4 linked regions of the Homo sapiens genome follow. The protein of the gene in region 1 interacts with the protein of each later gene in a pairwise test. Each region holds a gene or a part of one and is shown on either strand. Other genes may lie near its edges. The genes, in order: MECP2, GPR75-ASB3, MGARP and COPS3.

Region 1 (8,350 bases):
CCGCTCTTGTCGTCCAGGCTGGAGTGCAACGGCATGATCTTGGCTCACTGCAACCTCTGCCTCCCAGGTTCAGGCGATTCTCCTGCCTCAGCTTCCCAAGTAGCTGGGACTACAGGCACGCACCACCACGCTTGGCTAATTTTTGTATTTTTAGTGGAGACGGAGTTTCACCATGTTGGCCAGGCTAGTCTCGAATTCCTGACCTCAAGTGATCAAGCTGCCTCAGCCTCCCAAACTGCTGGGATTACAGGCATGAGCCACCATGCCCAGCCCCATATAACTTTTTTCTATTATTATTTTTCTGAGATGGAGTCTCACTCTGTCGCCCAGGCTGGAGTGCAATGGCACGATCTTGGCTCACTGCAACCTCTGCCTCCTGGGTTCAAACGATTCTTCTGCCTCAGCCTCCCGAGTAGCTGGATTACAGGTGCATACCACCAAGCCCAGCTAATTTTTGTATTTTTAGTAGAAATGATGTTTCGTCATGTTGGCTAGGCTGGTCTCGAACTCCTGACCTCAGGTGATCCACCCACCTCGGCCTCCCAAAGTACTGGGATTGCAGGCGTGAGTCACTGTGCCCAGCCCCGTATAACTTTTTACACCACCTTTTTAATTCCGTATTGTCCATCTAACTATTCAAAAAATCATTTAAAAAACCCCGGCCTTATACAAGAAGTCTTTTCCTTAATCGTGTCATTTATTCTATCCCTCTTCCTTTAAGTAAAAAATATTTTCAATCAAAATCAGAATTCGACTTCAGCTTTGAGGGTATTTATTAGATTCAAATAATGCAATTTATAAAAATTACACTTGCTACCCTAAAAATATATTCACTAAAAGCCTTTTCTTTTTTTCTTTTTTCTTTTTTTTTTTTTTTAAAGAGACAGTGTCTTACTCTAAAGAACGAGGCTGCCCAGGCTAGAGTACAGGAGTACAGTGGTGTGATGATGGCTCACTGTAGCCTAAAACTCCTGGGCTCATGGGATCCTCTCACCTCATCCTCCCGAGTAGCTGGGACTACAGGCATGAGCCACCATGCCTGGCCCCTCTATTTTTATCAGGTGTTACAGAAAAGCTTCAAAATCATCATGGAAGAAAATTATCATTTTTACCAGTACAAAACTTTTATTGCATCCCAACCAAGCTAAGATGAATACAGAATTGTTTCAACAGAAGTTACCATTATCATAATTCAAGACAAAAATCAGCCGGCAATTACATGAGTTGGAAAACAAACTACTCTTATGTCACAGTCTACCCTAAAGCTCCAACTTATGTCAGAATTTAAAATACACACACATATACACAACCCTGTGGATTCCTCCTCATTTATGTAAAACCTACTTTTGTGATGATCTGCTATTTTCTTGAGTCTTCTGGAATGAACACTGTAGCCCCACTCCCGGATAAGGAGAAGATACCACTTCCAGGGCTTAGCACTGCCCCTGGCTTGAAGCAGATACTCAAATATTTGTTGGGTGAATGAATGATTGTCTGCTGATAGGGCTGCCCATCAAGCCTCATAAAGAAAAAATTCAGAAAAAAGCAACTTTATAGAGAAAATAGGAAAAAGTTTAAGAGATATTTTGCTCACTTGAAGAAATCAGCATTTGTTAAAGGTGAAGACTGGATTGACTGGTTCATCAAGTGGCTTAGACACAACTGACTAAGTGGGCTATACCTTATCCCACCCCAAAGTTAAATACAAAACAGGTATTTTTTTTTTTAATCACAGGAAAAACACAGGGCAACTTAACTATAAAATTATTATTTTTATTTTTTATTTTTGAGACAGAGCCTCACTCTATCGCCCAGGCAGGAGTGCAGTGGCGTGATCTTGGCTCACCGAAACTTCTGCCTCCTGGGTTCAAGCGATTCTCCTGCCTCAGTCACCCCAGTAGTTGAGATTACAGGTGCCCGCCACCACGCCTGGCTAATTTTTGTATTTTTAGTAGAGACGGGATTTCACCATCTTGGCCAGGCTGGTCTTGAACTCTTGACCTCAGGTGATCCACCCGCCTCAGCCTCCCAAAGTGCTGGGATTACAGGCATGAGCCACCGCATCTGGCCCTTTTGTATGTATTAAATACGTATGTATGAATATAATACATCATCAGGTTTTTTAGGAAGAAAATATAGATGACTATTGATCTGTTGTTAAGAGTAGGAAAGGATTTCCTGGCGGGGCGCGGTGGCTCACGCCTGTAATCCCAGCACTTTGGGAGGCAGAGACGGGCGGATCACAAGGTCAGGAGATCGAGACCAGCCTGGCTAACATGGTGAAACCCTGTCTCACAAATACAAAAAAATTAGCCAGGCGTGGTGGCGGGCGCCTGTAGTCCCAGCTACTCGGGAGGCTGAGGCAGGAGAATGGAATGAACCCGGGAGATGGAGCTTGCAGTGAGCCAAGATCACGCCATTGCACTCCAACCTGGGCGACAGAGCGAGACTCCGTCTCAAAAAAAAAAAAAAAAAAAAAAAAAAGAGTAAAAAAGGATTTCCTAAGTATGAAAGCAAAAGAATAAATCATAACATAAATTTTATATATCAGAAAGACAAGAATCAAGACGTAAGACAAAACAGGAAAATATCTGCATGACAAAGAGTTAACATCTTTAATACATTAAGAGCTATGACAATGATTATTGAGGTTTAGCCTCAGTAATAATCCAAGCGGCACCAATTTAAAAGATGTATATCCAATTCTGGGACGATATGGGAAAATGGCACTTTCTCAGACTGTTGTGGGAACTGGGATAGCCATTTTGGACAGTGATGTGGTGGTATCCACCAGAAATTCCAAGTCTAGGCAGCCATTCTTCAAAATGACTGGCACATGAGGAATTTCAATCCTGTAGCATTTTTAATAACATAGAGAGACAACGAAATGCATGACGGTAAGTCAGCCCTGGACTACACTGCTATTTAAAAGAAATGAGGCAGAGATGAATATATGAGATGGAAAAATGCAGAATATGTATATATAACACCATCCTGAGGCCAGGCACGGTGGCTCACGCCTGTAATCCCAGCACTTTGGGAGGCCAAGGCAGGTGGATCGCCTGAGGTCAGGAGTTCGACACCAGCCTGGCCAACATGGTGAAACCCATCTCTACTAAAAATACAAAAATTAGCTGGGTGTGGTGGCAGGCGCCTGTAATCCCAGCTACTCAGGAGGCTGAGGCAGGAGAATCACTTGAACCCAGGAGGTGGAGGTTGCAGTGAGCCAAGATTGTGCCACTGTACTCCAGCCTGGATGACAGAGCAAGACTCCATCTCAAAAAAAGAAAAAACAAAACAAAACAAAAACCCTCCTGTTAATTACAACACAAAAAGTACACAGTTTAGTCTTAGAAGACTTAGAAGGATCTACATTAAGCTATTAACAGCAGTTATTCTGGGTAGTGGGAGCAGAGATTAAGCGGGGAGCTTTCATTTTTTTACCTGATACTTTTTTTTTTTTTTTTTTTTGAGACCGAGTCTCACTCTGTCACCCAGGCAGGAGTTCAGTGGTGTGATCTTGGCTCACTGCAACCTCCGCCTCCCAGGTTCAAGTGATTCTCCTGCCTCAGCCTTCCGAGTAGCTGGGACTACACGCTCAAGCCACCATGGCCAGCTAATTTTTGTATTTTTAATAGAGATGGGGTTTCGCCGTGTTAGCCAGGCTGGTCTCGAACTCCTGACTTCAGGTGATCCACCCGCCTAGGCCTCCCAAAGCGCTGTGATTACAGGCATGAGCCACCTTGCCCAGCCACCTGATCAATTTTTAAGTGGTTTGATTTTTCTATAAATCCATGTATTATTTTAGTAATTCTTTAAAAAGTAAAAGAAGAAAAATAGATATCAAGCATTTATCTACTAAAGACGGGTACTGTCCTTTGAGAATTCCCTCAAAAGTTCTTTGAAGCTCAAATGGCTACATCTTTCCCATTCATAAGATACTTTTTAAATTTCCTCTTTCTACATTTCTTTTTAAAAGTTTATTTTCAATTAGCTTCCTCAGGTTGAACTCTCTGTACATTTCTTAGGAGAAACTGTATGGTGTCAACACTGCCTGTTTTATAACATCCATTCGTAATCTGTAATCTGAGAAAAAGACTCGTAAAAACCCAAACCACCCTCCAGGCCTAACATCTTCCAGAAGAAACCCATTCACTGCCCATATTACATTTAGTCCACACAATTTCTGAGACAAAGCACAAAGCACTAGCCATACAACTCCCACCAGCATAAATACGTGGAGTACAAAGAATGTCCTGTCAGCTGGGCCCAGAGCACACCCCACAGCAGTAAAAGAGAATGACAATTTGAGTCACAGGATCAGGAGCAGAATCAAATTTGGGACTTGAGGCAGTGTGATGCTCTTCTGGTCTTCCGCTTCCTTCCACACCTTCTATTCTCCTTCAGCCAAACCTTGCCCTCACATAATCCCTAAGCAGGCTATTTCTTATGGATGTCTACAACAGCTTCACACTGAGGTGTCAGAAACCACTAGAGAGACAACAAAGAACGACTTAGGGTCTCAGTCGGAATCACAATGGCCGCATAAGTGAAAACTCACATTTTTGCTTAGGGGAAAAAAAATGGGAAAATTCAATTGGAACATTCTGCTTTACCACACAGAAGTTCTGAAATCCACATGTCAAAACATCAAATGCGGAGTGACCACTAATCAAAAAGACAAAACAAAACAACAACAACAACAACAACAACAAACAGCTTGAGATGTTGAGCCTGAAGGTTGAGAAATTAAGGAACCATTCATTTTTACAAAACTAAAGTCCACACAATGGTGCCAAGTAGTTCAAACTGCAGCTGATACAGCACCTGAGTGTCAGACCTAGAATGACTGGGGCCCCCAGGTTTTTACAAAGTACTCATCCTCCTCTAGAGTCCCAAGAACCAGATGTATATCTGGGTACTCTCTTTAGTTACCATGGGAGGAGTGTAGCAAGCACATGACATTAGCCATGGCCCCCGGTGTTCTGAGACAGCTTTCAGGAGGGTGTCCTTCTAGGGAACCAACCACATACCAGTTCCCATATCTGAAAATGCATTACCACTGCTCACTAATGTTGACCACTAAGCCATTTACCCCAAACCAAAGCAAACACATGCTGAAGACCGCTAAGGCAACAGCAGCAGCGCAAAAGGGCTCAGTGCAAGCGCTCTCAGCTCAGCTGACCTGCTTCAAGGTGAACTGAAGTTGCAGATCACCAGTTCCGGCTCTAATCTGACGCCCGCCCCCAGATCACGCTGTGGCGACCAAGTAACCCTACACACACTGACCTTTCAGGGCTCAGGGAAGTGACTTTTTTTTATTATATGGCACAGTTTGGCACAGTTATGTCTTTAGTCTTTGGGGTACTTTTATACTGTCCAAGAGTAGTATATTTTTTTCCTCTTTTCCTTTTTTTTTTTTTTTTAAAAAAAAAAAAAACAGATGGCCAAACCAGGACATATACTAAAAAAAAAAAAAGGAAGGTTACTTACCTGAGCCCTAACATCCCAGCTACCATGGAATCCTGTTGGAGCTGGTCTACAGAAGCAAGGTGTATTCTGGGGAGTCACATGTCACATCAAAGCAGGAACTGGTGAGTCTGTATTTTTATGGAGCCTAAAACAAAGAAAATTGTAAGTTGAAAGCCCCCATTGAGCTGCACGACCTTTTTCCCAGGGCTATTTGGGACATTTTGAAGATAAACACATAGACAAAGTACTAGGCTATTTCCCAGCTTACCTAGCTAGAAACAAAGGATAAGCTGCAAATTACTGGCACGTAACACACAGTGCTAAAATAAAGGAAAGATTCATGCTTGTTAGAATCAACACTATCACAAGCCTTGTCACCTCTAGGGGACACTTCGACACTACAAAAGCATACCATGAGTGGCGATTTCTGGCAAGTATTTCTTCTACCACGGCACACAGAAATTCTCAGGGAAGAATACATGTTCAAGAGAATACGCAACATCAAAATACCATCCCTGAAAGAACACATGGAACCTAGAGGCAGTCTCCCTTCTTTTTCAAGCAGCTGAATGAAGTTGCAATAAGCTGCTGTAACAACATCACATAAAGGGGCTTTAATCCTGAGAGAAAAAATCAGCACCAAGGGAAACCAAGTGCTCTGGGAGACCCAAAGCCATCATCCAAAACATGCAAGTCTATTTCAGGGCAATCAGTTTTAAGCCTCTCAGATCAGTCAATCTCGATGTTCAACAAACTCAGTTATTAGTTTGATAGTTTCTCTTTTTCTTTTGAACACATGTTCAAAAAAGGACTTTTGTCAGTACCTTTTTTGTCATTAAGATAACCATCATTTCCTAGTTAAAGCCTAAACTGCCCCATATGAATTAGCTAATTTCTGATACTATGCTGGCCCAAGAGTAGCACTTTTATAAGCTAAAAACGAAAGCTCAGAGCATACAACTTAGAGACTATTCACACAATTACTCATGTAATCAAACCCAGAAGAAGGGCAACACCAACCAAGTCTTTTACTGGTCTGTTGCTGCTCTACAGCTACCAGGATGGTACCTAAAATTATCTTTTGAGGTTCAGTGAGGCCTCATAATTCCCTTAAACAGTCAAGTCATAGAATACTTTGAAATCCCAGAAGTCAAGTTAATAGTATTACTCGGCTAGCTATATAATAAAAACCAAACTGGTATCCTGGCTAGGAGGCCCTGGAAAAGTCACAACTTCTCAGGGACACAAGTTTTTTTTGTTTGTAAACTGATGGTGCTGGACTAAGAATCCTTCTAGTTCTTAAAGTTTAAGATAATTAACTTAAGATTTCATGTCAAAAAGAAAAGAGCCAGAGGCTGGGTGCGGTGGCTCACGCCTGTAATCCCTGCACTTTGGGAGGCTGAAGCGGGTGGATCACGAGGTCAGGAGTTCAAGACCAGCGTGGCCAAGATGGTGAAACCCCGTCTCGACTAAAAAAAAAAAAAAAAAAAAAAAAAAATACAAAAATTAGCCAGGCGTGGTGGCAGGTGCCTGTAATCCCAGCTACTTGGGAGGCTGAGGCAGAGAACTGCTTGAGCCCGGGAGGCAGAGGTTGCAGTGAGCTGAGATCGTGCCACTGCACTCCAGCATGGGTGACAGAGTGAGACTGTCTCAAAAAAAAAAAAAAAAAAAGAAAGAAAGAAAAGAGAAAATGAGAGCAGTTTATGAAATCTAAAAAAGAAAGTTAATATATATATAAAACACCCCTAGCTCTTGGGCTAGGAAGACAAGTGCATCCTTACTAAGGCTTGGTCCTGTCAACTTCAGAGGCAATAATGAGAGCCCAGACTACAGTGTCTACAGTAACTGCAAAACAGCCACACAGCACAGCGGGAACACATTCACACGCCAGGAGACCCAGCATACATGTGCTTGAAGAAGTTATAAGACTCAGGCTTTATTCTCTAACGAAATGGTCATTCCCCCTTTGATGTGGGGGTGGGGGTGGGGATGCCCTGCCCACCCCCCAATTCCGGCTCCCACTCAGTTATCCCACATACCATACATACCATCAAAGTATTTAAGCAATGGCATGCAAAGCAAGCTTTCGACAGGTTTCTTGCAAGAGAAAGGCAGAAGAGAACAGGTAAAAGCAGAAGAGCACACAGGTAAAAGCAGAAGAGCACAACTTCTACTTAAGCCCAAAGAAGAGGGACCTGTTCACATCTTGTCCTACCCGGAATGATGCACACGCACAGGGGCTTGCCGGGACAGCAGTAGTTTCACTGGAAAGGGCTGGTATGGAGGCACCGAGGACAAGGTCCTTCCATCGCAGCGGTGATAATGCTCTACCCAAGAAAAAAAGATTGCGTCTGCCAGCCACGCAAGACTGGTCTGCAAGGATGTCACCATAGCAGAGGGCAGGGAAAACAAGCAGGTGTCCTGCCACACTCTTTGGGACTGGCCAGTCTAGGAGTGTGCTTTACCCCACGCACTGAAAACACTGGTTACTAGAAATATCAAACATTTCCTGTGATTCTCTCCTCCAAGATAACTCGGGCAGCTTGAGAACAAGCTGCTCTTAGCTAATTAAAAGATTTCTGCTGATATTAACCTTTATAAAAGATTTCAGGTTCCAGGACACGTCATTTATCATGCAGAGTCCCAAGCAGGTACATTAGCAATGGAAACCAGGCTCCAATAAGGAACTAACAATTTTATCTCTGTTGTTCTTTATTTTAGGTTAAAGAAATGAACTTCTCGTTTCATCTCCACATGGGAGGAATGTTCTGGAGGGGGTAACAGCCTATTAAACTCATCTAGCTTTTTTTTTTTTTTTTCAAACTCCACAGCTTGCCTCCCTACCCTACTAGACTAGATTGCACAGAGGCAGGGCAGG
Region 2 (6,525 bases), on another chromosome or scaffold:
GGGTTTCACCATGTTAGCCAGGATGGTCTCAATCTCCTGACCTCGTGATCCGCCTGCCTTGGCCTCCCAAAGTGCTGGGATTAAGGGCGTGAGTCACCACGCCCGGCCCCTTTCTTTCTTTAAAGATGGTGCCACAGACATGCCCCTCTCAGTCTCCTGATTAAAATCCTAATTGTGCTAACATGCCCATTTATCTCAAAACTGAAACCATTTTTTTTCCCAGCTGAGCACATCTTTGAGTTTAGGGCTGTTCTTGCCTTTGCAGATTAGAATTGGGTTGGTTGGTTTTGTTTGTTTGTTTGTTTTGCCAAAGAATGAAAAGAAACTGGAAGGGAAAACCCAGCAATATGATTGATTTTCTATGTTCTTTCAAAGTAATTTTTTCCTGTGAGTTTACATGTGAAACGGCAATGAGTATCAATTCTTCATAAAAGTGACTGAATTACCCTGGGGCAGAGGTTGCAGTGAGCCGAGATTGCACCACTGCACTCCAGCCTCGGTGACAATGCAAGATTCTGTCTCCAAAAAAAAAAAAAAAAAAAAAGCAACTGAATAGGAAAACATGTTCTTTAATAAACATAAGAGATAGTCAAGTCTAAATAAAATAATAATGATAATAATAACAGATTCTACACCACAGTTGTATACACTTCCAGTGAAGCTTTATGCATTCCATTCTGAGCTCCTAATACCAGGTAAACACGAATCATAGGTGGAAATATGCCATGTTTAGCACTAGAAGTAACATCACAGTTTATTAGCAAAATAAAGCAGAAAATGATCAAAATGATCAGGTAAATAAATATTACAACATATAATGTACTGGTGATGAAGCTGCAATAAAGTAATATAAGTGATGTTTACAATTTTTTTTTTTTTTTTTTTTTTTTTTACTGGGAAGGCTAGTTGTAAACATAAACATTCTCACTGAACTACTGGCCCCCCAAAACCTAACCTATCTCACAATCAATAATCATCTTTTGACTATAAAATCATAAAAACTTGTACTCTGTGGCTCTTTTGTCTCGATGATTTTTCAGAGAAAAAAATTAGCTGTGTTAAGTAGTTTCACTGATTTATCCATCTTGAATAGCTGCCAGTTCTGGAACTTCATACATCCTCAGAACGTCTTCATAGAGCAAATAATTATGTAGGCTTCTGGGAAGTGGCAGCTGACTAATATAACTGTCAGACCGTAGACGTTCTGATTTTAGACTGGACCGAATTTCCAAACGACAAAGATGGGTCAGGGATGGAACAGTGGCTGGAGAAACAAAAAAAGCAAGGTGAAACTTTTTTAAACAGAAAGATGTAATAGCACATAAAGGTAAATTTTTTTTTCCCCCAACTCTTAGTAATAAAAGTGATATATTGCTTGAAAGAAGACTACTTTGAGTCAGTATGACCACAATAAACCTTATTTATTCTTTTCTACAGCCTTCAACTGGCTCCTCTCCCTTCAGTTTGTTGGCCACACATTCAAAGTCAGTATCCAGGGCCGCAAACACTAAATGCTCAAATTCTAAAGATCTGTTAATACCTGCACTTAAGAAATGGATGAACCAACTTTAGAAATGGTGGAAGCTCACAATAGCAAATGCTACCTTCCTCTTAATCTATTTCATTACAAATGGTTTCCAGACCTATCACATCAAGTGAATAGATGTACAGCTTGCAAGTTTTCCTTTTTATCCATAACATAAAATGAAAATTTTTAATTGACTCTGAGAGAAAGGGAGTATTTACTGAGTGCCTTCTATGCCATAAGCCCATGTACTTCACTCAAATTCTCTTTTTATCTTCATTAACTTCATGAAGTATATATTATCAGGCTGTTGTAGAAATTTAAAAAAACAACTTTCCAAAGTCACAGAGCTAGTAAGCAGCAGAGCCAGGATTCAAACTCAGATCTATCTGAACCCAAAGCGTGTGTGTGTGTGTGTGTGTGTGTGTGTGTGTGTGTGTGTGTGTATCTGGCAAGGCAGTGCAGCCAAAAGCTAACTACCAATTAAAGGACAATTCAAATGCACATAATTAAGAACTGTATGATAGGCCAGGCGCGGTGGCTCATGCCTGTAATCCCAGTACTTTGGGAGGCTGAGGCGGGCAGATCACCTGACGTCAGGAGTTCAAAACCAGCCTGACCAACATGGTGAAACAACGTCTCTACTAAAAATACAAAATTAGCTTGGCGTGGTGGCACATGCCTGTAATCCCACCTACTAGGGAGGCTGAGGCAAAATAATTGCTTGAACCTGGGAGGCGGAGGTTGCAGTGAGCCGAGATCATGCCACTGCACTCCAGCCTGGGCAACAAGAGGGAAACTCCTTCTCAAAAAAAAAAAGAAAAGAATCATATGATAGCAGTTTCATTTTCCAAGATGAAAAGTGTTAAATAAAGAAGTTAATGTCTGCTTTTATGTGAATCGGACCAAAGCCTTTTGTTAATTCAAGAAATCTTTTATAAATCCCTGTGAAATTTAACAATGATGAACAGACCAGGATCAGAGCATCAAAGACAAGTACTATCAAGAGCACAGCTGATACCAGACCAGCTAGTCTGATTCCAGGTATAGGGTTCTTTAAACTCTAATACCCATAGGGCTTGAGACCAATTAATTCTCTAACATCTTCAATATCTTCCAAGCCATAGAAGTTAACTCATCATCGTTTTTAGTTTACTAGTTTAGGTTTAGTTTAGTTTATTCAGAATTAAAGAAATCACTCAAACTGGTGTTTCAAAATGCCAAATAAGAAAGCAAAAGTTATCGATTTTGTACATAAAACCTAAGTCTAAGCTGGGCATTTTCTTAAATCATGAGTCATAGATTCCCTATTATAAATAATAAGATTACAGTATCTATAGTATATAGCACGCACATTTATTTCTAACTTTTTTCATATCCATATCTTACTTAAATTTGACACTTTTCTGTAAACTTAAAGGAGAAATGATGGTTCTCACATGAAAGATGGGAAGACACAGGTAAAGGGGCCACTGGAGGAAGTTGCAGGAATACATATGGAAAGCAGGCCCAAGCTGCAAACACCACCGTTTTCCAAAGGTTTAAGTAGATTGACTATGTTCAACTATCAAGTATAAGGAAGCCCTCTTAGTAGGATCATGAACAATAATTGGTCAGTTAATAGAAACTCACCTTAAAGCAGGTGACCACAACAACCATACATACTTTAAACATTCTAATTTAAAATGGATACATGAACACATCTAGAATGCAACATCTATGGCTTGCAGTTTATTTATGTATTTTTTACTCACCACTATATAAATAAGGACACAGTTTCACTTTCTTTGAGTTACAGCATGGATTTAAAGGCATGTATGAAACAAGGTGAGTGCATAATCCTTCCATATTTTTACAGGTTTTTTTGCTTTCAGTTGTTGTAGCCACGTCTAATTCAATATCTATTTCTGTTCTGTGCTTATCTTTATCAAGTCTTTTGCATTCTACTTTGCCTTAACAGCAACAATGATTCTCTTTTCACACTCATAATTCATTAGCTTGTGCAATCTGGAATTATTTAACTCCAATAATATGCACAACGTAATAAAAAGTTTCAGAAATAAGCATAACTGCTGTTTGGTAAGCACACACCTCTGCTGGTAGGAACACTGGCATTCTAGAGTGTAGCTGGCCAGCTGCAAACACAGAGCATGCCAATGGACATAGTCAGATGGAAATGAAAGAGAAAATGACAAGACTGTTTAATCCAGTGTGTGTTTTTAAAGAGAATTTCTACTTATATTCAGTTAGAGTTTAACAGGCATCTGTTAAATTGAATCTCTTCATTCTGCACATTCTTAGGAACATGAATACTTACTACACAACCAGAAGGAAGATAAAGGATGGCTGTGCAACCCGGAGGAGAGCTGCTCACATGGAGATAAGGGATCCTTAATGATGCTCCAGCTTCTCAGAGTGGACAGACTACACTGGCTTAAAATTCTATGGGCTGACTGGGAAGATTCCTCCAGATACCCTAAAACTTAATGTAGTGCTGACCAGCTTTTCTAGATTATGTGACTACATCACTGGAGGTCTATCTTTAAAGCTTAATAAATCATTTGTTTATGCTAATTATGTGTAGAAGCTTAACCATTAGTGATCAAGCCACACTAGACCAGTTCGCATTTGTTAGGAGAAGCGTAACTGACTTGCCCACTGAGATGTGGCACATCAACAACATAGCTGTTGTTAACTAGATCTCAATGATTTGACTCCCAGTCCAGGGTTCTTTAAACTATGATAAGCTCAATATAATTCTCCAACATCTTCTAAACCACTGAAACTATCATAAATTTCAGAATATCTTTCCATTTAATAATAAAAAAGGAAAAGTATAGCTACTTCAGGTATTGGTTCAAATTTTAATTGCACCATTTTGGTTTTCCTTCTAAGAGCACAACAGATCACTGGCCTAATGAACAATTAGAGGTAAGAACTATGTTCAGCTGAACTGAGGGAGTGTTTCATGTGTAGATTATTAACACAGACAATAATATGCCTGTCAGTGCCATTTTTGTTTAATATGCCAGTAAATACTAAGGGAATTTTATAACCATATATGCAATATTTCAAAGCACACAAAATCCCTATGAAAGTTTTAGTGATGCATAGTTATTTCCAGACGTGTTGCCACTAGGCTAGAAGATCAAGCCATGCCTTGAATTTATAATACGAAAAAGGCCACAGAAGCTGTATGTAAAACATACTTTCATGAAAACCTATTAAAACTATATTTTAGTTTTGTTAAATACATCTCCATGTTCTTGGATTATGGCAGTGATTGTAACCTAGAAAATGACGTCTGAAACCATGCTACACTTCTAAGTCACTTTTCTGACCCAATCATTTTTATTCAATATGTTAAACTTAGTTTATCCATAGATCTATTAGCAGATGAGTAATATTTAACTTTTAATTCCTATACAGAATTCCTCTATTTTGTTCATTTTGTTATATGTACTGGCAGAACAATCAAAATAGAAGACTACATGTTGTTATACAAAGTTTTGTTAAAATCAAAAGCACACACAATGATCAAAATAAACGTCACAATTCTTAATTCATTATGCTTATAAATGCCAACTTTACTATAGCACAAAACTATATCTATATCATACACACCCACTATATTTTCTACATTCATCTTTAGCCTTCCCTCAGGCCAATGTTCAAACAACCTATCTGCCTGAACTACATTTCTCTGGTTCCTTTGAAATGTTTTGCACATCAAATGCATTTATCTGACTTCTGAGACACCTACTACCATTTTTATTTTCATCATTAATATATTGTCTTTCTCGTTGGTATCCATCCTTTTGTTCCCAGTTTTTCTTAATTTACTTGTGTTGTCTCTCTCATTGACTATAACTAAAACCGCTAGAAAAAACACAAAAAGCAAGTACCTGAGAACTCTGAAAAACAAGTAATAGATTAGGACATGAAGTCAAAACAATAGGAATGGCCAGTATAAAGGAATGACCAGTAGAGGCAATGAATGGATTAAATGGAAAAGCACCATCTAGTAGTAACACCTGTGCTGGCGCTGAGGTGCCACTATTAACTAGCTGTGTGACCCTGGGCAAGTCATCTAAATATTCTGACTTTCAGTTACCTTTCCATAAAATGAGAATAATGCCTCATCTACAAAATGGGCATAATGACACTTCCCTGCATCAAAAGGCTGTTGATGATGTTCAAGTTGGAACACATTTGCAAAAGCATTTCATAAAGTGAAACACCACACAAATCCCAGGCACCACAGAATCTAGTGATCTCCAAATGTTTTGATTACACACTAAATTAGTAAAGTCTCTGACCACAGAATCCAATATATATTTTACATATAAATTACATGTATACTATTAACCAAACATTATTTGTACTATAAAATAAAATAAGCCAATATAAAATAAGATATATACTTTAAATAATTTCATTTTTAAAGGTATAAGACTCCTTTAAATATTAATATTTTAACAAGAACAAGGTGATTGACTAGGCTTTATTAATGTAATTCTTAGTGATCTAGCAATTCAAAGAGTTGGTTCTAAGCCCAGTTTATTCTGATACATGGATGTAGCTGAAATAAGGTCTAAATGGGAGAAGTACACTGTGGCTTAGCTGAACTAAATCAGGATTCTATCTAGCCTATCTAGCAATTATGAAAAAGTTATTGTCAAAATTCATCTGGTAAATTTCTATTTTTTCCTGATATCAATCAGTTTATAAGCTAATCAGAAAGTTTTGCATTTTTACTAAATGGAGTTCAAAACAAAGGGGAACTATTTCCAAGTGTTTTAAGTATGTCAATGAAAGAGTTTTTCCAGGTGATATATACTACTTTTCACAAGAAAATAACGTAACAATAAAAATATTTCCTAGTACCTATTTTCAAAATCATCTCCACATAGCAAAAGTTTCTTTCATTGCTTGGCTTTAACCTGCATTGCAGGGCATGGAGGGGAGTTCCTTTCAGAAGGCAGTTACTTCTCACTCAG
Region 3 (8,350 bases), on another chromosome or scaffold:
TCCTTGTGCACATTATTTCCACAAATCTTGGATAGTCCCAGAGTATTTTGCTATGACTTTTCACCTAATACATTGTAAATATTTTCTCATGTAAGTAAATATTGTTCTGCAAAAGTTATGTCTATTTGTTTCACATTGTATGAATGTGCTAAAATTTGTCTAATTAATCCTTATTGAAAAATTTCTCATTTCATTGTCTTTTTAAGTAACTTGTCCATCATTGTATTTGTATTTAAGTCTACTTAAATCTCTGGTAATTTTAGTTCTATTTAAAAAATATTTCTGATATTTTTGTCTGTTTGAGAAATATGAAGGCTATATATTCCCTATTTGATCACAGATGTACTTTTAAGCCATCAGAAGTCCCACCACAAGTCAAAGCGATAACCTCTTCTCATAGCCTTTGGGGCACATTAGAAGGAAAAAAATTTTTTTCCAAGAAACGGCCATTTATATCCAAACTAAGAACATAAACAGGAAATCGTTGTGATTTTGCTACTATGAAGGTTTGTAAGCATGCCTTAAGATTCGCCCTGTGCAAATCATAGCTTTCCACTAGTCCCTGCACCCCTATACTTTATGTTAGGCCACATCAAATTGCAGGTTGGACATGCTTAATCCAAAAATCTAAAACACAAAATGTTCCAAAATTAGAAACTTTCTGAGCACTGACATGATGCCACAAGTAGAAAATTTCACATGTAAGTACTTAACACAAACTTTGTTTCAAGCACAAAATTATTCAAAATATTGTATGAAATTACCTTCAGGCTATGTGTGTAAGGTGTATACGAAACATAAATGAATTTTTTGTTTAGACTTCAGTCCCATCCCCAAGATATCTCATTATGTGTATGCATATATTCCAAAATAAAGAATATCCAAAACCCAAAACACTTCTGGTCCCAAGCATTTTATTTTATTTTAATTATTTTTTTGGAACAGAACCTTTCTCTGTTGCCCAGGCTGGAGAGCAGTGGTACAATCACAGCTCACTGCAGGACTCAAGTGATCCTCCTGCCTCAGCCTCCCAAAGTAGCTGGGACTACAGGCACATACCACCACTCTCAGCTAATATTATAAAATTTTTTTGTAGAGATGGGGTTCACCACATTGCCCAGGCTGGTCTTGAAATCCTGGGCTCAAGTGATCCTCCCACCTCTGCCTCCCAAAATGTTGGGATTACAGGCATAAGCTACTGCACCCACTGCTAGCATTTTAGATAAGGGATATTCATCCTGTACTTTGTACCTTCTGGGTCACGAATCTCTCATGCTTTTATACGTTACACCTTCTGCCTCCAGTGCCATTCCTCTTTCCCTTATTTTCCTTCAAAACTCAGGTCTCTTCTATTATGACAACTACCTTGGCCAGCTAGTTGAGTTTTACTCTGCCTGTAGCTTGGCTTAACACTTATTACATTTGTCATACTGTATCACAATTATTTGTATGTTCATACCCTCCTTCTAGACTGTGAATGGCTTGAGACTAGGGACCTTATCTGTCTTGTTCACGGTTATATTCTTAATGCTTCTAACAATTCCAAATACGTAGTAGATGCTCAGCTGTGTTAGTTGAAAGAATACATAAATGTGTTTATGTCTTTATTTTTAAAATAAAGAATTTGAGTTGTATATACTTTAAGCTCCTTCCGACTTTAAGTTTATTGTAAAAATTTCAATTCCAGGGCATTATAGGATATGCAAATGTTAGTACTACAAAATAAATGTTTAAATATAATAATATAGTACCTTTATCTGTTTCTATTAGTTTATACAGAATTGTACTTCTATTTCAGATACAACCTTTCTGCAACATTTGGCTTAAAAACGTTTTATCTGCCCATATTTGCTTTATAAGAGAAAAATTGAGATTTCTTTCTATACCTACATGTGTATTATAGATTTATAGAAATATGATGGATTTCAACATAAATGCTTGATTTAACATATAAATACAAATTGTATTACATTTTAGGTATAAACATACTGAATTCATTTTTTAAAAAATAATATTTTCACTGAATCCTGTAGTGGAGTACATATAGTACATGGCTTTCTCTTGCTAATGTGCACTTCATTTGGCTGTTAAAATTTTTTAGTGCTTTTGTCATTTCTCCTTACCCACACCTGCACCCCTTCCAAGAAGGCATGATGCTCAGCATCAAGATGACAGGTTTCATGAGTGTTTATCAAATTAGATTGGGAGACTGTCAAGTGGAATTATTACCCAGCCTCGTAATACTGTATTCCCTTAAGCTAAAATCACTTGATGTTAATAGATTCTAGGTTCACTGAGTAGAAAAATTTTGAAAGATGTAATTATTTAAAATAGTTTTGCTCAACTAGTGAAGCTAACTGTGTTTAAACATTTTTTTCCTAGCATCTCTGCGCCGGATGTCATCTAACAGATTCCCTGGATCATCTGGATCAAATATGATTTATTATCTGGTTGTAGGCGTCACAGTCAGTGCTGGTGGATATTATGTAAGTGATTATATAACCACAGTGCTCAAGAATTCATGTATTTTACAACTCATGGTAAAGCTCAAAGCAACGTCAAGATCAGGACATGAGATTAATTAAATATACAACATAGCAATAGATTTAAGTGTCATTAAGCATACACATCTGAAAAATAGGTGGCAATCATTAGAAATACAGGGTTTTCATAAGAATATATTAGCTAGACTATTATGAAGGTTTTTCTTTTTTAGTTTATTTTTAAGTTTTATTTCATTCGAACCTCAGCTTTCTAAATTATGAAGATTTTTGTATTTGTAAAGTCAGCATTTCTTAATACCATTAATATGGATGATTTTCAGTAAAAATAATTTTATTATAAATGCTAATAGTGATAGCTGATACTTGAGTGTTTATCATATGCCAGACTCCTGGATCATTTAATAATTACAACAAGTCTACAAGGTAGGCACTATTATTAACATTTTAAAAGAATTATTTTGAAAGATTAACTTAAAAATTAATATAGGAGCTGGGTGCAGTGGCTCACGCCTGTAATCCCAGCACTTTGGGAGGCTGAGGCAGGTGGATCACCTAAGGTCAGGAGTTCGAGGCCTGCCTGGCCAACATGAGGAAACCCCATCTCTACTAAAAATGCAGAAATTAGCCAGCATGGTGGTGTGTGCCTGTAATCCCAGCTACTTGGGAGGCTGAAGCAAGAGAATCTCTTGAACCTAGGAGGCTGAGGTTGCAGTGAGCCAAGATCACATCATGGCACTCCAGTGTGGGCAACAGAGTGAGACTCTGTTTCCAAAAAAAATTTAAAAAAATTAATATAACTATTAAAAAAATTAATAGATCTTTTTTTAGAGCAGTTTTAGGTTTACAAAATAATGAGCAGAAAGTACAGAAACTTCCATATAACCCCTCACACCCCCTCCTCCTTTCCCCTATTAAAATCTTGCACTGATGTGGAACATTTGTTAAAACTGACAAGCCAATATTGATATATTATTATTAACTAAAGTCCAGGGTTTACATTAGGATCCACTCTTTGCGTTGTATGTTCTGTTTTTACAAATATATTACAATATCATCCAGAATAAATTATAGTATCATACAGAGTCGTTTCATCACCCTAAAAATCCCTCTACTCCACCTACTCATTTCTCCCTCTCTCCTCCCAATCTTTTTACTGTCTCCATAATTTTTGTTAGTTTTAAATTTTCACACAGTTTTATTATTTGAAAAATTCATATTTGTTCATAAGTTTCTAAAAAATGCAACATAGACATATATAAAGTGAAAAGCATATTTTCCTTCCCAGTCCCCATGTCCATTCCCTCCAGGTAAACCCTGTAAGACAAAGGTTTTAATAGTGAGATTTTGGGACTAAAATGACAGACATTTTTTAGTTAAGTAAGTTAAGACTTGAGTCATTCACCATTTTGTCATAAACTTTCTAAATCAAAATATAATCTTTATTAAGAATAAAAGTAGGCCAGTCATGGTGGCTCACGCCTGTAATCTCAGCACTTTGGGAGGTCAAGGTGGGCAGATCACCTGAGGTCAGGAGTTCAAGACCAGCCTGGCCAACATGGTGAAGCCTCATCTGTGCTAAAATACAAAAATGAGCCAGGCATGGTGGCAGGTGCCTGTAATCATAGCTACTCAGGAGGCTGAGGCAGGAGAATCACTTGAACCCAGGAGGTGGAGGTCGCAGTGAGCTGAGATTGTGCCACTGCACTCCAGGCTGGGTGAGAGAGCCAGACTCTGTCTCAAAAAAAAAAAAAAAAAAAAAAGAATAAAAGTAATGCGGTGGCTCATGCCTGTAATCCCAGCACTTTGGGAGGCTTGAGTCCGGGAGTTTGAGACCAGTCTGGGGAACACAGTGAGACCTCATTTCTACAATAAAAAATAAAAAAATTAGCCCAGCGTGGTGGTGTGTGCCTGTGGTCCTAGGTACTTGGGAGGCTTTGATGGGAGGATCGCTTGAGCCTGGGAAGTTAAGGCTGCAGTGAGCTGAGATTGCACCACTGCACTCAAGCCTGGTCAACAGAACAAGACCCTGTCTCAAAAAAAATAATAATAAATAAAAAAGAATAAAAGTAGAGCCTGTAGTGGTGGCTTACGCCTATAATCCCAGCACGTTGGAGGCCAAGGCAGGAGAATTGCTTGCAGGAGTTTGAGACCTGCCTGGCCAACATAGCGGGACCCCATCTCTACAAAAAATGTAAAGAATAAAAGTAGAATAAGCAGAAATTCTTTGTAAACTCTAAGAGTACACAGTCACTATATTTTGGTTTGGACCTACGGAAATATGAATAAAGCCGGGCCGGTGGCTCACACCTGTAAACCCAGTACTTTGGGAGGCCAAGGTGGGTGGATCACGAGTTCAGGAGTTCAAGACCAGCCTGGTCAAGAAATGGTGAAACCCCATTTCTACTAAAAATACAAAAATTAGCCGGGCGTGGTGGCGGGCACCTGTAATCCCAGCTACTCTGGAGGCTGAGGCAGAGAATTGCTTGAACCGGGGAGGCGGAGGTTGCAGTGAGCCAAGATTGCACCACTGCACTCAGCCTGGGTGACAGAGTGAGACTCCGTCTCAAAAAAAAAAAAAAAAAAAGAAATATGAATAAAGAGATGTTTAGTCATAACTAGAAGCAGTTTCATAGGACTATGTAAGATGGCCAAACCAAACCAAACCAAAATACATATTCTAATCCTCAGAATTTTTTTTTTTTTTTTTTTGGGAGGGGACAGAGTCTCGCTCTCGTCCAGGCTGGAGTGCAGTGATGCAATCTCGGCTCACTGCAAGCTCCACCTCCCGGGTTCACGCCATTCTCCTGCCTCAGCCTCCTGAGTAGCTGGGACTACAGGTGCCCACTACCACGCCCAGCTAATTTTTTTTTGTATTTTTAGTAGAGACGGGGTTTCACTGTGTTAGCCAGTATGGTCTTGATCTCCTGACCTCGTGATCTTCCTGCCTCGGCCTCCCAAAGTGCTGGGATTACAGGCATAAGCCACCAAGCCCGGCCTAGAAATTTTTTTAAGGCTAGTCATAATCTTCAGAATTTTGAGAGCCTCAAGGAGTCAGGAAACTGCAAACTTGTCACTTATATTGTTGTCCTCTACTAATCTGCCAGCTTTCACTTGTGCCCAGATTCCTTTGTTCTGTCATCTTTCTACTGTTTAATGTTGAATTCATGGCTCAAACCCACTCTAGTTGAGGTGTAGGCCACCAAAAAAAAAAAACAGAGATTGAGACTAGGCCATGTGATAGGCTGGGAAGCTAGAAGGATGAATTTCATTTGGACATCACTATACCCCTGATTATATTAATATGTACCAGTGCCAAAAACAAACTTTGCCAGACTGCTAACTCACTGGTTGCAAAAGGAATCTTAAACTAAAAGGTTATACATTTATAAACCAGCCATCCCTGAGAACCCTTTCTGGCCTTGTTCTCTCACAGTAGGGATGGAAGTTGTTCCCTTCCATTTCTAAGTTTATGTGATTTTAATCTCAAATGTTGGAAGCCTTAATTGCCAGGAATCTTAGGCTACTTTCAGGAGGAAATGCTGAATGTAAGGCACTCCAAAACCTGTATACTTGTTCTCCCCTTCCATTTCATGTCCTGTACTAAAATAATCTCTATATTAGATTTTTATGAATTGACCCCACAGATGCTTAGTAGCCAAAAGCAGTTTTCCATTTGCAATCAAAATCCTCGACTATTAGGGGTCATTGGAATCTGAAAGAGGCCCAGATCACTCCAGTTTTTTTGAGGGTCTGGGTATCTCTTGTCCCCCAGGCTGGAGTGCGATGGCGCAATCTCATCTCACTGCAACCTCCGCCTCCCGGGTTCAAGCGATTCTCCTGCCTCGGCCCCCTGAGCAGCTGGGATTACAGGCGCCTGCCACCACGCCTGGCTAATTTTTGTATTTTTAGTAGAGATGAGGTTTCACCATGTTGGCCAGGCTGGTCTCGAACTCCTGACCTCAGGTGATCCACCCGCCTCGGCCTCCCAAAGTGCTGAGATTACAGATGTGAGCCACCATGCCCGGCCTGGTCTGGTATATCTTAAAAAGTAGTACCAGACTGGCTTATAAAAATTGTAGTATATTTTAAATGCTTATACTTAATAAATACTTAATATCATTTGTAAATAACTGCCAAAGTCTAAATTTGAGACCCTCTCTTTTAATAGGCCTTTATTCTACTCTGTGCTCGACTGTGCTGGATTTGGAAAACCTAGATTCTTTGGGCCACACATTAGGGTGAATTATTCTAGTATTGTATCTCTTCAATTCTCCCTAAAGTTAGTCTTTTTTCTTGCCTTGTGTTTTAGCCCCTTGAGCAATGAGACTAATGTCCCTTGGAATGTTGTTCCTGGAATGATCCTTTCAGGGATGTGAACTTGTGTACTGGTTCGGTTTGTGTACTGAGAACTGGGGATACTGACTTATCATATTGGTCCTACAAGGTGTCAGGAACACACACCCTACTCGGAAAATATTCCTTGCTTTTATACAGAAAATGTTGATTATCATTCCCGTTGATCATATTTGCTCTGTATGTTTCAAAGCCAAATGATTCAAGTCTGAGTTCACTAAACCCCGGGAAGTTTGCTATAAAAGGGTCACTTTACATCACTTCTACCCGACATTATAGATTTTCTTTTCTTTTTTTTTTTTTTTTTTTCAGACGCGGTCTCGCTCTGTCGCCCAGGCTGGAGTGCAGTGGTACGATCTCTGCTCACTGCAAGCTCCACCTCCTGGGTTCACGCCATTCTCCTGCCTCAGCCTCCCGAGTAGTTGGGACTACAGGCGCCCGCCACCACTCCTGGCTAATTTTTTGTACTTTTTGTAGAGATGGGGTTTCACCATGTTAGCCAGGATGGTCTCCATCTCCTGACCTCATGATCCGCCTGCCTCGGCCTCCCAAAGTGCTGCGATTACAGGCTTGACCCAGATTTTCTTTTCTTTTCTTTCTTTCTTTTTTTTTTTTTTTTGAGACGGAGTTTCCCTCCTTTCCCAGGCTGGAATGCAATGGTGCGATCTCGGCTCACTGCAACCTCTGCCTACAGGGTTCAAGTGATTCTCCTGCCTCAGCCTCCCGAGTAGCTGGGATTACAGGCATGCGCCACCACGCCCGGCTAATTTTGTATTTTTAGTAGAGACCAGATTTCTCATGTTGGTCAGGCTGGTCTCAAACTCCCGACCTCAGGTGATCCGCTGGCCTCAGCCTCCCAAAGTGCTGGGATTACAGGTGTGGACCATTGCACCCGGCCCCGACATTACAGACATTCTATTTTCACAGCATAATTTTTACACTGTAAAATTGTTTGTAATTAAGTAGTACAATTTTTAAATAAGGTACTTGGTTTCTGATGGTTAAAAATTTAGAAGACACTATATATAAATAAATTTTAGAAATCTATCATCTTACCATTAAAAGTTAAACCACTACCAACATTTTCTTAAAAGCTAAATTAATACAAACAATAGTAACTGAATAATGAGATTTTCATTTTTTATATCATTTTCTAATATGAATACAGGCCAAAGAAGACTACTTAAATATAAAATGAAAGGAAGCCTGCACATTTTGTCTGTGATTAAAATAGCTTTCTTCCCAATACTGTTTCTTTCTTTCTTTTTTCTTTTTTTTTTTTTTTTTGAGATGGAGTCTTGCTCTGTCGCCCAGGGTGGAGTGCAATGGCATGATCTCGGCTCACTGCAACCTCCACCTCCTGGGTTCAAGCAATTCTCCCACCTCAGCCTTCTGAGTAGCTAGGGCTACAGGCGAGCACCACCACCATGCCTGGCTGTTTTTGTATTTTTAGTAGAGATGGGGTTTCACCATGTTGGCCAGACTGGTCTCGA
Region 4 (8,350 bases), on another chromosome or scaffold:
AACCACAAGGGCAAAATATTTTCAATGGAGAATAAAATGTTATTTAGCTTACAAGTGTCTGTTGCATATCGAATGTGCTCCCCATTACAAGTGCTGATGAAGAGCTGAACCTGTGAGAATAGCGTTTCGAAGTCAGGAACACTGGGCATAGAAAACTTCACAAACCTAGAATAAGGAGAAAAGAATCAAATTACCCTGATAGTTCATGGGATAAAATACAGAAACAATGTATGCAAGAAATCCATCCTGCCTCCAATACTCTGTAAAATTAAATGAGCAACAGTATTTTTTAGAATTAAGAACTAGGCCAGGACAGTGGCTCATGCCCGTAATCCAAGCACTTTGGGAGGCTGAGGCAGGAGGACTGCTTAAGGCCAGGAGTTTGAGACCAGTCTGAGCAACATGGTGAGACCCTGTCTCTACTACAAAAAATAAATTAGCCAGGCGTGGGGGTACATGCCTGTAGTTGCAGATACTTGGGAGGCTGAGGCTGGAGGATCACTTGTGCCTAGAAGGTTGAGGCTGCAGTGAGCTATGATCATGCCACTGCACTCCAGCCTGGGTGACAGAGCAAGATCCAGTCTCAAAAAACAAATAAATAAGAACTAGAATCCATGAGATTTTCCTGACCTGGTTATTTTGCACAATCACTATACAGAACGGACACAAATAAGGGTTAAGAAAAATATGTTTAGGCCTGGCGCAGTGGCTCATGCCTGTAATCCCAGCACCTTGGGAGGCCAAGGCGGGAGGATCACCTAAGGTCGGGAGTTCGAGACCAGCCTGATCAACATGGAAAAACCTCGTCTCTACTAAAAATACAAAAAAATTAGCCGGGCGTGGTGGTGCATGCATGCCTGTAACCCCAGCTACTCGGGAGGCTGAGGAACTGCTTGAACCCGGGAGGTGGAGGTTGCAGTGAGCTGAGATGGTGCCACTGCACTCCAGCCTGGGCAACAAGAGCGAGACTGTCTCAAAAAAAAAATCTATATATATCTATATATATATATATATACACACATACACACACATATGTTTAATAATATATATTAAATAATAAACATGTATATATTAAACATATATGTTTTATATATATATATATGTTTAATAAGGAACAACTTTCAAGATGAAAAATTCCACTAAATGAAGCCAAATAGGCTGGGCATGGTGGCTCAAGCCTGTAATCCCAGCACTACGGAAGGCCAAGGTGGGCAGATGGGCAGATCACAAGGTCAGGAGTTCGAGACCAGCCTAGCCAATATGGTGAAAACCCATGTCTGCTAAAAATACAAAAATTGGCCAGGCACGGTGGCTCACGCCTATAATCCCAGCACTTTGGGAGGCCAAGGCGGGTGGATCACCTGAGGTCAGGATTTCAAGACCAGCCTGACCAATCGGGTGAAACCCCATCTCTACAAAAAATAGAAAAATTAGCCGGGCGTGGTGGCAGGTGCCTGTAATCCCACCTATTTGGGAGGCTGAGACAGGAGAATTGCTTGAACCCAGGAGGCAGAGTTTGCAGTGAGCTGAGATCGTGCCACTGCACTCCAGCCCGGGTGACGGAGTGAGACTCGTCTCAAAAAAAAAAACTCCTTTATGTTTATACAAATCCTGAAAATTTGTTTTAAAAAATGGCCATCTCAATTGTGGGGACTATAGTTTGCATTTATCTGAATACTTTTATCCATGTAATCCACAGGAATGTCCACATTTTCTAAATTAAAAAGAAGTTCGGAGGAGTACTGCCACAGGGCATGGCAGAATACATTGAATGAAAATATTGGCTGGGCACAGTTGCTCATAATCCCAACACTTTGGGAGGCCAAGGTCGGAGGATCATTTGAGGCCAGGAGTTTGAGACCAGCCTAGGCAACATAATATGGCCCTATCTCTGCAAAGAATAAAAATATTAGCTGGGTGTAGTGGTACATGCCTATAGTCCTAGCTTCTCAAGATGCTGAGGTGGGAGGATTGCTTGAGCCCAGAAGTTCAAGGCTTCAGTAAGCTACAATTAAGCCATTGCACTCCAGCCTACATGACAAAGTGAGACCTTTTCTCAAAAAAAGAAAAAGTATCAAAGATCCAAAGCAACATTGCTTAGAATTCCCTTCAAACAAATTTAAGCTATTTAAGACCAAATTAAATAGACCTTATTTTAATTGGGGTTCCTTGTAACCGTGTACTTGACAGTAGAATTCTTTTTCTCTTGATGTTATAGTATTATAAATTGGGATATTGTGGTTGTCATGACATTTGAAATGATATAAATAAACTGAGAAGAAATTGACTTAAAGTGAGAGTCTGGCTTCACTTACGCTGGGATTCCTGAGACAAAGGTATGTGTCCGGAGCAGAGTTTAGAGAAGAAGCTTTGTCAGAATGGAAGGATCTAGAGTTATGCTCTGCAGTATGGTGGCCACTAGCCATATGCAGCTATTTAAATTAAAATTAAAGATTCAGGTGCACTTGCCATGTTTCAAGTACTCAGTAGCCACATGTGGTCACATGTCCTTGTCTTAGCACAGGTTTGTAACATTTCCACCACTGCAGATAGTTCTATTGGACAGTGCTGGTAAGGATTTCTACTGTCTGTATTTTCTTATTTATATGAAAGAGCAGATGCTGGGCACAGTGGCTCACACCTGTAATCCTAGCACTTTGGGAGGCTCTGTTTGAGACCAGCCTGGGAAACATAGCAAGACCCCATCTCTACAGAAAAAAAAAGTGGCCAGGTATGGTGGCTTATGCCTGTAATCCCAGGACTTTGGGAGGCTGAGATGGGCAGATTGCTTGAGCTCAGGAGTTCAAGACCAGCCTGGGAAACGTGATGAAACCCTGTCTTTACAAAAAAACACAAAAATTAGGCGGGCGTGGTGGTGTACACCTGTGGTCCTGGCTACTCAGGAGGCTGAGGTTGGAAGATCACTTGAGTCCATGAGATTGAAGCTGCAGTGAGCTGTGCTCATGCCACTGCACTCCTGACTGGGTGACAGAACAAGACCTTGTCCCCCCAAAAGAAAAAAAGTTAGCTGAGTGTGGTGGCACATGCCTGTGGTCCCAGCTACCCAGGAGGCTAAAGTGGGAGGACTGCTTGAGCCTGGGAGGTCGAGGCTACAGTGAGCTATGCTTGCACCACTGCACTTCAGCCTGAGTGACATCAAGACCCTATCTCAAGAAAGAACAGAGAGCATGCATGTTTTATACACACATAAACTCACATAAACATATATATCAGGTGAGTAATGGACATGAATGCATTTTGAAGGTATAAGGTGTTTACCGTTGTATATGTTAGATAAGGTATGGAAAGAACCCTGAGCTTCTGGCTGAGGACCCTGGTTTTGAATCTACATATTCTTCCAATTTTGAGTTGTGGGGCCCTGAGCTTCATATTTTTATTTATAAACTGGCAGTCGCAATGCCTCACTGACCTATTGTGAACCCCAGATGAAATTGTTTCTGACATGTCTTGATAATTACAAAGTGTAAATACAGATGTATGGTGACATTGTTAAGTCAAATAATACAGTATAGATGGAAGCAGATAAACCAAAAGATGTAGTAGAAATTATGATTAGCTTTTCTTTTTTTTTTTTTTGAGACAGAGTCTCACACTCTGTCACCCAGACTGGAGTGCAGTGGCGTTGTCTCAGCTCACTGCAACCTCCGCCTCCCAGGTTCAAGCCATTCTCCTGCCTCAGCCTCCCGAGTAGCTGGGACTACAGGTGCATGCCACCACACCCGGCTAATTTTTGTATTTTTAGTAGAGACAGGGTCTCACTATGTTGGCCAGGCTGGTCTTGAACTCCTGAACTTGTGATCCACCCGCCTTGGCCTCCCAAAGTGCCGGGATTACAGATGTAAGCCACTGTGTCTGGCCTAATTTTTCTTGAAATTACATTTCAATCGTGCTTTTTTTTTTTTTTAAAGAATTTGAAATTTACTTACAACCAATGCCTTAATAGTGCTAAGTTTACATGATTTCTCCCCTAAAACCTATCACCAGTGCCTCCTTGGAGTGTTTCTCATGGCAGTCTGAGTTACTTGGGAAGGATCACCTGAGTCCTCCCTCTTCTCACCACTCTACTCCTCTTGTCCTGCCTATCAGTTGTTCTGTCAGTGTTATTCTCAGATAGACCACACAGCTGGTGGCAGCATCTTTAACTTAAGCTGCTGCCCACCTCCAGCCAGCCCATAGCTCTCACTCTTGGCCCCCTTAGTATGTTCTCAAAGCAGGAAAAGCAACAACTGATTTTTTTTTTTTTTTTGAGAGAGTCTCCCTCTGTCGCCCAGGCTGGAGTGCAGTGGTGCAATCTTGGCTCACTGCAACCTCTGCCTTCCAGGCTCAAGCAATTCTCATGCCTCAGCCACCTGAGTAGCTGGGACTACAGGCATGCGCCAACACACCCGGCTAGTTTTTTTATTAGTAGAGACAGGGTTTCACCAGTTGGCCAGGCAGGTCTGGAGCTCCTGGCCCCAAGTGATCCACCTGCCTCTGCCTCCCAAAATGTTGGGATTAGAGGCGGGAGCCACTGTGCCCAGCTGCAACAACTGATTTTATTTTTTTGAGACAGTCTCGCTCTGTCACCCAGGCTAGAGTACAGTGGCGCGACCTTGGCTCACTGCAACCTCTTTATGCCCGGATACATAAAAGAGTTTTTAAAAATGATAAAGTTGAACAAAATATAACAAGCAATTATTAGCTGGAATCAATAAACTGTAACTGCCATAACTTTAGTTTTGCAAAAGAGCTCAATGTTATTTACAATGGTTTACTTTCTACACCAAAAAATAAATAAATAAATAAAAATAAAGCCAGGGCTGGGCGTGGTGGCTCACGCCTGTAATCCCAGCATTTTGGGAGGCCAAGGTGGGCGGACCAAGAGGTCAGGAGATCGAGATCATCCTGGCTAACATGGTGAAACCCTGTCTCTACTAAAAATACAAAAATTAGCTGGGGCGGGTGGCGAGTGCCTGTAGTCCCAGCTACTCAAGAGGCTGAGGCAAGAGAATGGAGTGAACCCGGGAGGCGGAGCTTGCAGTGTGCCAAGAATGTGCCACTGCACTCCAGCCTGGGTGACAGAGCGAAACTCCATCTCAAAAAATATAAATAAATAAATAAAAATAAAGCCAGGAAGTGCACAGTGTTCCATTTTAACAAGCACAGAACTATAAAAGAAGATGCTCCTTACAAAACAGCAAGGACGCCCAAGGAGTGTTCTTGTACATCCAGAGCCCCGAGCACAGTGTCCAGATGGGATAAGTTCTTCGCAAGGAGTTCCCCACTCTTGTTGATCAGTTCACAAAGCTGTGTCATTTGCCCTGGAAAACAGGAACAACACTATTGCATTTCAGCTACAGCACTAACCAAACTGATGGAACTCTAACCACAACTTTGTACTTCAGAGCCTGAAGTTCCCAAAATTGATTCTTAATCTCCTTCACTTCGGATGAGGATCCAGAAGGACCAGAGGAGTGAAACAACCTGTCCGTGGTCTCAAAACGAATTAGAGATTACACTGGACCTCCCACTTCTCTCTGACCCTGAATGTTTCACCTTTTTCTCTATTCTGTTTTCTAGTCTCCCAAGCCAGAAATGCACGTTACTATTAACAGCTCTCTGCATCCAAATGATTTAGTTTTACTTCCAAAGTCTCTCAGCTCCATTTCTTTCTCTCTCCCCTCTCTGCCCTAATTCAGATCCTCATCATTTTTTGTCTGGACTACATCTTTTTTTTTTTTTTAAGATGGAGTTTCACTGTGTCGCCCAGGCTGGAGTGCAGTGGCGCAATCTCGGTTCACTACAACCTCCGCCCTCCAAGTTCAAGCAATTCTCCTGCCTCAGCCTCCCAAATAGCTGGGATTACAGGCGCCTGCCACTGCACCTGGCTAATTTTTTTGTATTTTTAGTAGAGACGGGGGTTTCACCTTCTTGGCCAGGCTGGTCTTGAACTCCTGACCTCATGATCCACCGCGCCCAGCCTACATCATAAATCTTCTAAATGGTCTGCCTACTGTGATCTTTCTCTCCTCCAACCCGCACTCCATATTAGTACTGTCTGTTCTATAAACTGTGCATTCAATCAAGTTATTCCAATGACTTTAAGAAGTGCAAACGCCTCAGCCTGAACTAAGGCCCTTCAATAACTGGTCCCTGCTACCTTTCCAGCCTTATCTCCTGCTACTTCCCCTCACACACCTACTCTTCGATCACAGCAAGCTCAGAAAATCAACATTCTATCTTCTCTCCTCTTTATGCTTCTACACATGCTGTTCTCTGTCCTTCTCCCCCACATCCTCTGCTACCTGACTGAGCCTCATCCAGCATTCAGCAATCAACTTGTGGCGTCTCTAGACCCTCATCTCAGCTCCCTTCCCCATGGCTAAGCTGGGTATCTGCCCTCTCTGCCTCGCATGGGACTGTAGTGGTTAGGTATTTCAGTAAACTCAGGTGGAGGGATTGTCCCTTTCTCCAGCTCTAGAATACATCACCTGCTTAGCAGTTCATCAAGCAGCTACTTGTTGAATTAATCTCCTAATTGATCTATTTTTCCCCTATACTGCAATACTATGTTTGTTTTGTTTTGTTTTTTGAGACAGGGTCTCATTCTGTCGCTCAGGCTGCAGTGCAGTGGTGTGATCACAGCTCAACGCAGCCTCCATCTCCTGGGCTCAAGCAATCCTCCCACCTTAGCCTCCCGAGTAGCTGGAACTACAGGTGTACGTCACCATGCCCATCTTATTTTTTAAGTTTTTTGCAGAGACAGGGGTCTCACTATGTTGCCCAGTCTGGTCTCTAACTCCTGGGCTCAAGCAATCCTCCCACCTTGGCCTCCCAAAGTGCTGGGATTAGAGGCATGAGCCACCACACTCAGCCTGCAATGCTACATTTTAACAACTAAGGTACAGAATCTATTAATAATTAGGCCTCAGCCGGGTGCTGTGGCTCACACCTGTAATCCCAGCACTTTGGGAGGATAAGGTGGGCAGATCTCTCGAGGTCAGGAGTTCAAGACCAGGCTGGCTCACACCTGTAATCCCAGCACTTTGGGAGGATAAGGTGGGCAGATATCTCGAGGTCAGGAGTTCAAGACCAGGCTGGCCAACATGGTGAAACCCTGTCTCCACTAAAAATACAAAAATTAGCTGGGTGTGGTGGCACACACCTGTAATCCCAGCTACTCGGGAGGCTGAGGTGGGAGAATCCTTTAACCTGGGACAATCCTTGAACCCGGGAGATGGAGGCTGCAGTGAGCTGAGATTGCGCCACTGTACTCCAGCCTGGGCAACAGAGCAAGACTCCGTTTCGGGGGAAAAAAAAAATTAGGCCTGAATTGGTACCTTTAAGTAGACCCATCAATTTTGACAATTACTGTCATGACAGATACCATGGTCACACTCTGTCTTTCTGGTAACAGTGAGGATATATTTAAGTCCATGGGCATTAACCTCAAGTTTCCAACTTCTCTATTTCTACAGAGCAACTGCATAATCTTTTCCTTACTAAAAGAATACAACATAGTATAATGCTTAAAATACAAGTGACTATAGCTAGGTACTTTTGATAATTTAACACTTTTCAATTTGATACATTTTACTGAAAGCAAAGGAAATGTATCATTATTATACATGCATTACAAAACAAGAATAAAACAGCTGTGATCTTATTAGGTGTCACCTCTTGAGATCACACAGATTTAACTGGGAAATACCAACTCATCATCATTGTATTACAGATCTCACTGGTAGGTATGAAGTAACTTCTAGTTGAATAATTTGCCTTTGTAAACCATTACTCTAAATATATTAACAATAATTTGTAACACCCAGAAATAAGCATTGCAATCCATTAGTTCTCTACTAGTTAACAATCAGTGCCCAGTTGAGACTGAAATAAAAGCTGGGTCACTATGAAATCACCAGATAATTAATTAGTGCAGGGCCAAGGGCAGAGTAAAAAAAAAAAGTTTAAGTGTCACAGAGTGCATTTGAAATCAGTGTAACCAGAGATGTGGCCAATAAAATTCTTTTTTTTCTTTTTTTTTTTTTTGAGACGGAGTCTTGCTCTGTCACCCAGACTGGAGGGCAGTGGCGCGATCTTGGCTCACTGCAAGCTCCACCTCCCAGGTTCATGCCATTCTCCTGCCTCAGCCTCCCGAGTAGCTGAGATTACAGGCGCCCGCCACCATGCCTGGCTAATTTTGCATTTTTAGTAGAGACAGGGTTTCACCATGTTGGCCAGGGTGGTCTTGAACTCCTGACCTCAGATGATCCGCCCGCCTCGGCCTCCCAAAGTGCTGGAATTACAGGAGTGAGCCACTGCGCCTGGCCTGAAACTCAAAGATTTCCTA

The links.
Region 2: the proteins of MECP2 (region 1) and GPR75-ASB3 interact in binary tests that used the Homo sapiens proteins (3 or more experiments, as listed by UniProt).
Region 3: the proteins of MECP2 (region 1) and MGARP interact in binary tests that used the Homo sapiens proteins (3 or more experiments, as listed by UniProt).
Region 4: the proteins of MECP2 (region 1) and COPS3 interact in binary tests that used the Homo sapiens proteins (3 or more experiments, as listed by UniProt).

The regions. Positions count from the first base shown.
Region 1 is NC_000023.11:154,086,691-154,095,040, forward strand, and holds part of MECP2 (methyl-CpG-binding protein 2), read right to left. Parts: exon of another isoform or gene 7,688-8,350; intron 6,860-7,687; exon of another isoform or gene 5,520-6,859; coding exon of another isoform or gene 5,494-5,519; intron 1-5,493. UniProt on the Homo sapiens protein: Chromosomal protein that binds to methylated DNA. It can bind specifically to a single methyl-CpG pair. It is not influenced by sequences flanking the methyl-CpGs.
Region 2 is NC_000002.12:53,669,427-53,675,951, forward strand, and holds the end of GPR75-ASB3 (GPR75-ASB3 protein), read right to left. Parts: intron 1,265-6,525; coding exon 1,077-1,264; 3' UTR 867-1,076; downstream 1-866. Other genes in the region: ASB3 (ankyrin repeat and SOCS box protein 3), read right to left, coding at 1,077-1,264. UniProt on the Homo sapiens protein: Probable substrate-recognition component of a SCF-like ECS (Elongin-Cullin-SOCS-box protein) E3 ubiquitin-protein ligase complex which mediates the ubiquitination and subsequent proteasomal degradation of target proteins. Recognizes TNFRSF1B.
Region 3 is NC_000004.12:139,269,425-139,277,774, reverse strand, and holds part of MGARP (protein MGARP), read left to right. Parts: intron 1-2,382; coding exon 2,383-2,486; intron 2,487-8,350. UniProt on the Homo sapiens protein: Plays a role in the trafficking of mitochondria along microtubules. Regulates the kinesin-mediated axonal transport of mitochondria to nerve terminals along microtubules during hypoxia.
Region 4 is NC_000017.11:17,270,844-17,279,193, forward strand, and holds part of COPS3 (COP9 signalosome complex subunit 3), read right to left. Parts: intron 5,341-8,350; exon of another isoform or gene 5,322-5,340; coding exon 5,192-5,321; intron 166-5,191; coding exon 53-165; intron 1-52. UniProt on the Homo sapiens protein: Component of the COP9 signalosome complex (CSN), a complex involved in various cellular and developmental processes.